3 linked regions of the Homo sapiens genome follow. The protein of the gene in region 2 purifies or fractionates together with the protein of the main gene of each other region. This does not show direct contact. Each region holds a gene or a part of one and is shown on either strand. Other genes may lie near its edges.

The links.
Region 1: the proteins of BAZ2A (region 2) and CSTA purify together in Homo sapiens (affinity purification with mass spectrometry; one large-scale study listed by BioGRID and IntAct). This does not show direct contact.
Region 3: the proteins of BAZ2A (region 2) and BAZ1B fractionate together in Homo sapiens (co-fractionation; one study listed by IntAct). This does not show direct contact.

Annotation. Positions count from the first base shown.
Region 1 is NC_000003.12:122,338,668-122,342,315, forward strand, and holds the end of CSTA (cystatin-A), read left to right. Parts: intron 1-2,771; coding exon 2,772-2,900; 3' UTR 2,901-3,302; downstream 3,303-3,648. UniProt on the Homo sapiens protein: This is an intracellular thiol proteinase inhibitor. Has an important role in desmosome-mediated cell-cell adhesion in the lower levels of the epidermis.
Region 2 is NC_000012.12:56,602,827-56,606,474, reverse strand, and holds part of BAZ2A (bromodomain adjacent to zinc finger domain protein 2A), read left to right. Parts: intron 1-162; coding exon 163-228; intron 229-411; coding exon 412-645; intron 646-1,147; coding exon 1,148-1,402; intron 1,403-1,675; coding exon 1,676-1,890; intron 1,891-2,183; coding exon 2,184-2,258; intron 2,259-2,774; coding exon 2,775-2,955; intron 2,956-3,056; coding exon 3,057-3,116; intron 3,117-3,617; coding exon 3,618-3,648. UniProt on the Homo sapiens protein: Regulatory subunit of the ATP-dependent NoRC-1 and NoRC-5 ISWI chromatin remodeling complexes, which form ordered nucleosome arrays on chromatin and facilitate access to DNA during DNA-templated processes such as DNA replication, transcription, and repair.
Region 3 is NC_000007.14:73,442,230-73,445,877, reverse strand, and holds part of BAZ1B (tyrosine-protein kinase BAZ1B), read left to right. Parts: intron 1-1,748; coding exon 1,749-1,894; intron 1,895-3,049; coding exon 3,050-3,153; intron 3,154-3,324; coding exon 3,325-3,648. UniProt on the Homo sapiens protein: Atypical tyrosine-protein kinase that plays a central role in chromatin remodeling and acts as a transcription regulator. Involved in DNA damage response by phosphorylating 'Tyr-142' of histone H2AX (H2AXY142ph).

The sequences.
Region 1 (3,648 bases), on a different chromosome or scaffold from region 2:
CAGAAAACAATGGCACCATTTCCTCCATTCTCAATCTGCTTTCTTCATGGCTGGAAAAGAAAGTTTTCCAGTTAAAAATGATTATGTGCAAAGATAGGAAACATTCCATCAACATTAACATATTTAATAATTTATGATTAATTCAAATGCATAAATTTCACATATTACCAGCTCACATGTTTCTTCAACAGTTCATCAGATAACTATCTTGAAAATTTCTGCTTGAAAATTTGTTCCCTTGACCACCCTTTTGCCCTCTCTTAATCAGTCTCCTCTCTCTCTCTCATCTTTTCTTCCTTCTGCTATCAAACTTTTCCTACTGGATCTCAGCCACCGATCCCAGTTCCCTTTTACTTCCTGGTAGTCTGGCTGTTGATCCCTTTGCTCTGAGGCACTCTAGATTTAAGGTCTTGCCAGTGATGTGACCTTCTCTATGTATTTCAAGTACCTATCAAGAGGTAGGTGGTAGAATGGAAGGACCACAAGCTTAGGTGTCAGAGTGTCCTGGGTTTGAACCCTTGTTCAATTTGTTCTATGGGAAGCTCCTCCTCCTCTCTGAGCCTTCATTCCCTTATCTGCACAATGAGGGTAATAATCTACTTCGCAGCGTGTTGTGAGGAATAAATAAGCTGGAAATTTATTGAGCACTTATAATTCACTATGCACTATTCTAAGAACAGGGCTTATCTCATTTAATCCTCACAACAAATCTATGAGATAAGTACAATCACTTCTCTTGGGTTACCAACGAAAAAACTGAGTTCCAGGGTGGTGAAGAAACTAAAAAGATCACACAACTACAAGAGCAGAGTCAGGATTTGAACCCAGATAGACTGAGCTTAACTACTGGCTGTGCTGCCTCTAATATAAAGCACAAAATAAGAGCTTTTACAAGGTTACACTGGCCTGGTGTGGTGGCTTATACCTGTAATCCGAACACTTTGGGAGGCCAAGGTGGGAGGATAGCTTGAAGCCAGGAGTTTGAGATCATTCTGGGCAACATAGCAAGACCCTGCCTCTACAAAGAAAATGTTTTAATTACCTAGGCATGGTGATGCACACCAGTAGTCCTAGCTACTTGGGAAGCTGAGGTAGGAGGATCACTTGAGCCGAGGAGTTTGAGGTTGCAGTGAGCTGCGATCGCACCACTGCACTGTGAGCCAGGCCTCATTCCCCGATCAGTACCCCCCAAAAATGTTACATTGTAGAGTGAAAAGAATGTAGATGCTAGAGGCTAACAGATCTGGGTTTGAATATTGGCTGTGCCACTGACTAGCTGAGAGATTTATGGAAAATCACTTAATCTCTCCTACTCTGCTTCCACGTCTGTAAAAATTTCATTGCTCCACTTTTCTTCAGGCCTATAATATAGGTTAATATAATCATTTATATAAAATGTTCATCATAGTGTCTGGCTCACAGTAAACATTTGATATATGGCATTTGTTAAAATTAGGATAGGAAGTGACATCAGAAGCACAATAAATATTTGTATAAGACAAAGCATTTATTGTCTCCAGCAAGAACCAAAGTAAAAATTCTTACCATAATTTTCCAGGTCTCAGATTCATGTCCAAACTACTGCTTCTGCTTCAACCTTCCTACCAATGACTTCCTAGTAAAACCCCTTAGCTTTTTTTTTTCTTTTCTTTTTTGAGACGGAGTTTCACTCTGTCACTCAGGCTGGAGTGCAGTGGCACAATCTCGGCTCTCTGCGACCTCCACCTCCCGGATTCAAGCGATTCTCCTGCTTCAGCCTCCCAAGTAGCTGGGATTACAGATGTGCACCACCACACCCAGCTAATTTTGTATTTTTAGTAGAGACCAGATTTCACCATGTTGGCCAGGTTTGTCTCAAACTCCTGACCTCAGGTGATCCACCCACCTTGGCCTCCCAAAGTGCTGGGATTATAGGCGTGAGCCACAGTGCCCGGCTGGCCCCTTCACTTTAGAAGGGAGGGTGTCCGCCCCCTGGGCTCTGCTCAATCCTACCAGTGGGTGTTTATAAAGTAGGTTCTGATATAGGTATGGGAACCCTGCATCCCAAATTTTCTAGGGCAATTCTGATTTTCTTCTCCCTTATCAGACTGTATGGCAAACAAAGTGTCCCAAGTTGAGAGTCAGAAAACAGTATCACCAAAAATATAGGCTATCACTTGTTTTCTTGCTCCATGCATCTTTGAAAATAAAATGCTGTCCTTTGTGCCCAGATTATACTAAAAAAAATAACAAAATAAACCTAGGACCTATGCCTCTTGCCATGCCATTAGTCTACAATTTTTTTTTTTTTTTAAGACAAACTCTTGCTCTATCACCCAGGCTGGAGTACAGTGGCATGATCTCGGCTCACTGCAACCTTCTCCTCCTGGGTTCAAGTGATTCTCCTGCCTCAGCCTCTAGAGTAGCTGGGATTACAGGCATGCACCACCATGCCCGGCTAATTTTTTGTATTTTTAGTAGAGACGGGATTTCACCATGCTGGCCAGGCTTGTCTTGAACTCCTGACCTCGTGATCCCCCTGCCTCAGCCTCCCAAAGTGCTAGGATTACAGGTGGGAGCCACGGCACCCAGCCTAGTCTGCTCTTTTTCTCCTAAAATAAGGTGGTGGATTTATGAATACAAAGAGTCTAAGAATGGTGGACTAGGTCTAGCAATGCTGTTCCTCAGCAGCTTTTTGGACAGAAGTCTTTGTAGACCTGTGGCTCTCTCACTTGATGTAGACCCATTTGAATGAATCTCCTTTTGCTTTCTCTTTCTTTAATATTTTTCAGGTACGAGCAGGTGATAATAAATATATGCACTTGAAAGTATTCAAAAGTCTTCCCGGACAAAATGAGGACTTGGTACTTACTGGATACCAGGTTGACAAAAACAAGGATGACGAGCTGACGGGCTTTTAGCAGCATGTACCCAAAGTGTTCTGATTCCTTCAACTGGCTACTGAGTCATGATCCTTGCTGATAAATATAACCATCAATAAAGAAGCATTCTTTTCCAAAGAAATTATTTCTTCAATTATTTCTCATTTATTGTATTAAGCAGAAATTACCTTTTCTTTCTCAAAATCAGTGTTATTGCTTTAGAGTATAAACTCCATATAAATTGATGGCAATTGGAAATCTTATAAAAACTAGTCAAGCCTAATGCAACTGGCTAAAGGATAGTACCACCCTCACCCCCACCATAGGCAGGCTGGATCGTGGACTATCAATTCACCAGCCTCCTTGTTCCCTGTGGCTGCTGATAACCCAACATTCCATCTCTACCCTCATACTTCAAAATTAAATCAAGTATTTTACAAAGTGTGTGTGTGTGTGTGTGTGTGTATATATATACTTTTTTTTTTTTTTTTTTTTTGAGACAGAGTCTCGTTCTGTCACCCAGGCTAGAGTGCAATGGTGTGATCTCGGCTCACTGCAACCTCCACCTCCCAGGTTTAAGCGATTCTCCCATCTCAGCCTCCCAAGTAGCTGGGATTACAGGCACCTACCACTGCGCCTAGCTAATTTTTGTATTTTTAGTAGAGACAGGGTTTTGCCATGTTGGCCAGGCTGGTTTCGAACTCCTGACCCTAGGTGATCTGCTCGCCTTGGCTTCCCAAAGTGCTGGGATTACAGGTGTGAGCCACCTTGCCCAGTCTATATTTTT
Region 2 (3,648 bases):
AAATAACGTGGGCATCTCTAGGGTGAGAGAATTAATCCATTGCCAACCCCTCATTCCATCTCTCACCTCTCCTCCCCAGCACCCTTGTCTGTTTTTGAATCCTAGCCCAAGCAGAGATGCTTTCAGAGTTTGAGGAGAAATGACTTCCCTTATGGTTTACAGGCCAGAAATAAGCGGAAACAAGAGACCAAGAGCTTAAAGCAGAAGGAAGCTAAGAAGAAATCCAAGGTAGGTGCATGTACAAACTTGCCAAGTATAATTTCGAAGCCACTAAACTGATTTTGCAGGACATGTACATCAGTCTTGTTTTATAGTGAGATTTCTGGGCTGTGAGGTTGGGAGGACTGGGACCAGGGAAGGATAGTGACTGATATCTTTATGGCAGTCTTGGTTCCTCTCTTCCTTGGGTAGGCTGAGAAAGAAAAAGGAAAGACAAAGCAGGAAAAACTGAAGGAAAAAGTCAAGAGGGAAAAGAAGGAGAAGGTAAAAATGAAGGAAAAGGAGGAGGTGACCAAAGCCAAGCCAGCCTGTAAAGCAGATAAGACCCTGGCCACACAGAGGCGCTTGGAGGAACGGCAGAGGCAGCAGATGATCTTGGAGGAAATGAAGAAGCCGACAGAGGATATGTGTCTGACTGACCACCAGGTAGTGAGGAGAGAGTAACAGTTCCTGGGTCAGCTGGGAAGACTTTCCTTTAAAAAAAAAAAAAGGACTTCTGCAATGGGAGAGACATTTCCATTAAAGATTAAAGGAAGGCCGGGTGCCATGGCTCACACTGTAATCCCAGCACTTTGGGAGGCCGAGGCGGGCAGATCGCTTGAGCCCAGCAGTTCAAGACCAGCCTGGGCAACATGGCGAGACCTCATCTCTACAAAAAATACGAAAATTAGCTGGGTGTGGTGGCATGTACCTGTAGTCCCAGCTATTTGAGAGACTGAGGTGGGAGAATTGCTTGGGCTTAGGAGGTCGAGGCTGCAGTAAGCAGAGATCATGCCACTGCACTCCAGCTTGGGTGACAGAGTGAGACCCTATCTCAAAAAAAAAAAAAAAATTACATAAAAATTAAAGGAAGAACCTCTTGTAGACATGCAAATTGTCATCTTCTGTTATGTTTAACAGAACTCTCTACTCACTTTTCTCTCTCTAGCCCCTGCCTGACTTCTCACGAGTCCCTGGTCTGACATTGCCCAGTGGAGCCTTCTCAGACTGCTTGACCATTGTGGAGTTCCTGCATAGCTTTGGCAAGGTGCTGGGCTTTGATCCTGCCAAAGATGTGCCTAGCCTGGGGGTCCTGCAGGAGGGACTCCTGTGTCAAGGTGACAGCTTGGGTGAGGTGCAAGACCTGCTGGTCAGGCTGCTGAAGGCTGCACTCCATGATCCTGGCTTTCCCTCCTACTGTCAGGTGAGTGCAAGTCCCTCCCAAAGTAACCAGGACAAGTAAAGGAGATGTAACTACTTAGTGTTTCTCTTTTCCTTATATTTTTCCATTTCTTTTTCTTCCTGACTCCTCTCCTTATTTTATTTTTCTTTATTTTTTCCTTTTCTTTTGTGGTCTTCTTTCGTATTCTGTCTTAACCCCCATAGTTCTCTTCTGATGTATTTTCCTCTTGCACATTCACCCAACTTGGTTGTGCATCTTTCCCTACTCACCCCCATTATGCTGTCCTCCACACAGTCCCTAAAGATCTTGGGGGAGAAGGTGTCTGAGATCCCACTGACAAGAGACAATGTGTCAGAGATCCTGCGCTGCTTCCTTATGGCATATGGAGTAGAGCCAGCCCTCTGTGACCGCCTGCGCACCCAGCCTTTTCAGGCCCAGCCACCCCAGCAGAAGGCTGCTGTCCTGGCCTTCCTTGTGCATGAGCTCAATGGCTCCACCCTCATCATCAAGTGAGAGGCTGGGAGTGGGGATGGTCATTGTATCCCTTGCATCAGAATGGGGTGGAGGACTTGTAGCCTTCCAGAAGTCCTCAGAAATGTGTGTTCACTGCCATGTTCTGAAGATGCTGGAATGACTTGGGACTGAATTGCAGTGCCCTCCCTGGGAGAGCCTAAGCCTTCTGCCATTCACCCAATCTGGGTTCTAGGCTGGAACTCCTTTTTCAGCTGCAGCCCCTTTACCCTTGAGCCTCCTTTCCCTTTTTTTGTGCTGCCACTTCATCCTATTCCCTATTCCCCTGCAGTGAGATTGACAAGACTCTGGAGAGTATGTCCAGCTACAGGAAAAACAAGTGGATTGTTGAAGGCCGGCTCCGGAGGTAGGGACCAGACAGAGAGTAGAGCCTCAGAGAGGAGAGAAGTGGGGCGGGTGAAGCATAGCCAGGGTTTTGGCTTGAAATGTGATGCTTTAGCCCCTTCCCTGGGTTTGGGACCTTACCAGGGCCCAGGATGGTTTAGAGTCAAGGTATTTCTTTTGTGGCACTATCATGTTCCTCACCAGTTTCCCGTAATTTTTTTTTTTTGAGATGGAGTCTTCCTCTGTCGCCTAGGCTGGAATGCGATAGCGCAATCTTGGCTCACTGCCACCTCCGCCTCCCAGGTTCAAGCGATTCTTCTGCCTCAGCCTCCCAAGTAGCTGGGATTACAGGCCCATGCCACCACACCTGGCTGATTTTTGTATTTTTAGTAGAGACAGGGTTTCACCATGTTGGCCAGGCTGGTCTCGAACTCCTGACCTCAGGTGATCCGCCTGTCTTGGCCTCCCAAAGTGCTGGAATTACAGGTGTGAGCCACCACACTTGGCCTTCCCTTAATCTTTCTCCATCTATTTCAAGGCTGAAAACTGTTCTGGCCAAGCGAACTGGGCGGTCTGAAGTAGAGATGGAAGGGCCAGAGGAATGCCTGGGACGGAGGCGCAGTTCTCGGATCATGGAGGAGACCAGTGGCATGGAAGAAGAGGAAGAAGAGGAGTCTATAGCAGCTGTCCCTGGCCGCAGGGGTCGAAGAGATGGAGAGGTACTGGCCCAAGATCAAGGAAAGTGGGAGTTAGAAAATAAATTCCTCTTTCTTGAATCTGATAACCTCCTTTTTCATAATGCCCATGTGTTTCTCCCTAGGTTGATGCCACAGCATCTAGCATCCCAGAGCTAGAGCGCCAGATAGAAAAACTCAGCAAGGTATTGTGCTTCTAACCTCCCAAGAGTTGGAGATATGGGCTGGGCAAGAATTGATCAGCTTCTTTTTTAAACTGAATTTTAATTTTTATTCTTTTGAGATGGGGTTTCTGTTACCCAGGCTGGAGTGCAGTGGCACGATCATGGCTCACTGCAGCCTCAGCCTCCTGGGCTTAGGTGATTCTCCCAAGTAGCTGGGACTACAGGCAGGAGCCACCATGCCTGGCTAATTTTTGTGTTTTTGTAGAGACAGTTTCCATATGTTACCAAGGCTGGTTCTGAACTCCTGGGCTCTAGCAATCCACCTGCCTTGGCCTCCCAAAGTGCTGGGATTACAGGCGTGAGCCACCGCTCCCAAACTTAATCACCTTCTGAATTAGGCCCAGATGGCATCACTTTTATAGAGGGACTGAGAGCCATTGCCTTTCTCTGATATACTGGATGAATTCACCACTGTCACTCTGGAAATGTGTTTATTCATCTTCATTTTCATTGTCTACCCAGCGTCAGCTTTTCTTTCGCAAAAAGCTGCTTC
Region 3 (3,648 bases), on a different chromosome or scaffold from region 2:
TTTTTTGGCGGAGCGGGGGATGGGTATCTTTCTCTGTTGCCCAGGCTAGAGTGCACTGGTATGATCACTGCTCACTGTATCCTCGATCTCTCAGGCTTAAGCAATCCTCCTTACCTCAGCCTCCTGAGCAGCTGGGACTACAGGCACGTGCCACCATGCCCGGCTTTTTTGTAGAGATAGGGTCTTGCCATGTTTCCCAGGCTGGTCTTGAACTCTTGGGTTCAAGTGATCCTCCTGCCTTGGCCTCCCGAAGTGCTGGGATTACAAGTGTGAGCCACTGCGCCTGATCTCTCTGAGGGCAGATCCTGAATATGGTAGTATACTGATTCTGTTTATTTGTAAGCTAGTGATTGCTTTCCACTTCTACGTTGTAGCTCTCTTTCCAAGGAATTGCTTTTCTAAGTTTTTACGGCCTCGACTTGCCAAAAGGATCTGGGAAGTATTTGGTACTTCAGAGCTTTTTGTCAACTCTATCTTTCAGACCACCAAAGATGTGGTTCCCCAGTGCAGCTCAAGGTTCTAGCACCTAAGCATCAGATTCTTACCCTTTCTTACTAGCCTGGGCTTGAGCTAGAGACGCTAAAGTAGCCAAGAAAGGGTTATCGTGATCCAGAAATAGAATGGAAAGTAGTGTTTCTGGATTATTCGTGTCACTGCCTTCCTAGACCTCTGTGTCCAGTGTCATCTCCCCACTCCCCAAGGGAAGGTGGTGGAGAGCCTGGAGCTAAATCCTCATGGCATTGTTTCCCAGGGCTCACTGAGGAATGCCAGTTGGCTTGATGGTGAGCACCTGTTGTAAACCTGAGACACAAGTAGTCTCAGTGCCTTTGTGTGTGTGTGTGTGTGTGTTTTTTTTCTTTTGTGAGATGGAGTTACACCCTTGTTTCCCAGGCTGGAGTGCAGTGGCGTGATCTCGGCTCACTGCAACCTCCGCCTCCCAGGTTCAAGCGATTTTCCTGCCTCAGCCTCCTGAGTAGCTGGGATTACCAGCATGTGCCACCACGCCCTGCTAATTTTGTATTTTTAGTAGAGACGGGGTTTCACCATGTTGGTCAGGCTGGTCTTGAACTCCCGACCTCAGGTGATCCACCTGCCTCAGCCTCCTAAAGTGGTGGGATTACATGTGTGAGCCACAACGCCCGGCCTATATTCTTTATTCTCTCATTGGGGATCCTGGGCAGGGCTCTTATGGAGGGGACTAGCCCTAAATTGTATTTAATGAGGAGCCTTGTGGCCCTTCATGGAAGTACCAGCTTTTCTCTGGAAAGATTCTGATGGTAAGTGTAGAATAACTCTGGGAATTACAACATAGGGTTTGTTTTACAATCCAGTTCCATCTTACATGTAAATACATCCACTCGCTCAGGCTGAGCTTGGGCTGTGGGAAATCCAGGCTGACCTATTAGCAAATGGCTTCTCATGAGTGAGAGTTTACAGTTGATTCCTGCAGGGGCCTTATGGCTGGGAGTAACTGCAGGACGGGGCAGGACAGAAGTACTGAAGGACCTAGCCCTCTGAAGGGCTTTGGCAGTGGATGAAAGGCACCCATTCTTCATCGGCTGCCACTGCCTTTTAGTGTCCTGTTAGGTAAGGCAAGATAAAATAGCAAGAGCACCTTAAAACCAAAGGAGGCCACTGCTTTCCTTGTCCAGGAAAAGGATTCTCCCTGCATCCCTTTCCCCCATTTCGAAGATGCTCCTCCCTTCACCTTCCGTTGTTCTCTGCTGAATCCATAGTTTTTCTTTCAGTGAGACCTCGAAAGACCATCCGGGGCAAGCACAGCGTCATCCCCCCTGCAGCAAGGTCAGGCCGGCGCCCGGGTAAGAAGCCACACTCTACCAGGAGGTCTCAGCCCAAGGCACCACCTGTGGATGATGCTGAGGTGGATGAGCTGGTGAGAATTATTTATCATCCCTTCTCTAACCTTTCTGTTTCTTATTCCCTACCCCAGCAATTAGGAATTCATCAGGCAACAGGTGGGAGGGGAGCCTCCCCCCTCCTCCTTCTTACCAAACTTGGGAGGCTGGGGAGGCAGATGGGTGAGCCTGTACGCAGACAGAAGCAGCAAGGCCTCCAGGAACAGCTATGTCCGGCATTCCCCTGCTGTAGCCTGCAAACTAGTTAGCGGGCAGCCTGCAACTTATTAAGGATTTAAAAATAGTATCCATGTGTCTCCAGTGGGCTCAGAGGGGCTGGGTCTTCATTGTGGGAATGTCAGCAATGCTGGAGCCTCACTTACTGTTGAGTCGACAGTTGTTATGGGAGGGACATTACCCTCCCCTCTGCTCCTTAACCAATGTAATTTTAGTAGTTTTTAGATCTCACTTGAGCTTTAAAGAACAAAAAAGAAACTCTTGAAAAGGTGCTTGTTTTGACAGATCAAATTGGAGTTAGGGGCTTAAGGCAGGCCATTTGGGAGATCATAAGGCATTAGAAGATGCTCGGTTTGCCACAGCCTTGGGCTCTGTGGCCTCTGCTGTGAATCACAGCTTTTGTTATGGCTACCTGGAATGGAGGCCCCGCCCCTTTTCTCTTTAGCCACTTAACCCTCACATGTCTACGGTGGAAGAGCCCAGGAAGGGAATTGGACCTCTTGCTTTTCTTACCAGAGGCACCCCACCCCCACAGAATTGGCTGCTGTTGGCCCAGATAGCATGTTTTGCTTTCTGCAGTGGCTTGTTGATGCCCTTCCATGGTGTCACTGTAACCCCAGGTCCACCTGTTCTCTGAGAGCTAGTGTCCTGTTGACAGTAGCCCCCTTCAGCCGACCTCCAGCAGGACTGCTGGTAAAGGCGGCCCCCGCTGCCTGCTCTTTGCTGCTTTGATTGCCGTGGCCCCGGGGGAGGCGAGTGAGTGGACTACTGGGAAGATGCCTGCCACCTGGGCCGAGGGTGCTCCCTGACTTGAATATCAGAAGGTTTCAGCACCTCTGCGCCAAGGAAATAGTTGAACTCTCTTCCTTTTTTGAGCAGATACACTTATTTTCTGCCCTGTCCATTCTTCCTCCTGTCTTGAATCTGTAATAACATTGTTCTTTCTTTCCTGCCAGGTGCTTCAGACCAAGCGGAGCTCCCGGAGGCAAAGCCTGGAGCTGCAGAAGTGTGAAGAGATCCTCCACAAGATCGTGAAGTACCGCTTCAGCTGGCCCTTCAGGTGAGTGCTGTGTTCTCAGGTGCAGGGGAGAGGAGTGGCCTGGCTGGTTCTAAAAGCTTCCAGAGCCCCTGAGGGGCTCTCAGCCAAGCCCTTGCTTTTCAGGACGTGTCTCAGTGGCAGGGGCACTGCCGTCAAGGCTGTGCAGATTCTCCATTTGGTTCTTCTCCACAGGGAGCCTGTGACCAGAGATGAGGCCGAGGACTACTATGATGTGATCACGCACCCCATGGACTTTCAGACAGTGCAGAACAAATGTTCCTGTGGGAGCTACCGCTCTGTGCAGGAGTTTCTTACTGACATGAAGCAAGTGTTTACCAATGCTGAGGTTTACAACTGCCGTGGCAGCCATGTGCTAAGCTGCATGGTGAAGACAGAACAGTGTCTAGTGGCTCTGTTGCATAAACACCTTCCTGGCCACCCATATGTCCGCAGGAAGCGCAAGAAGTTTCCTGATAGGCTTGCTGAAGATGAAGGGGACAGTGAGCCAGAGGCCGT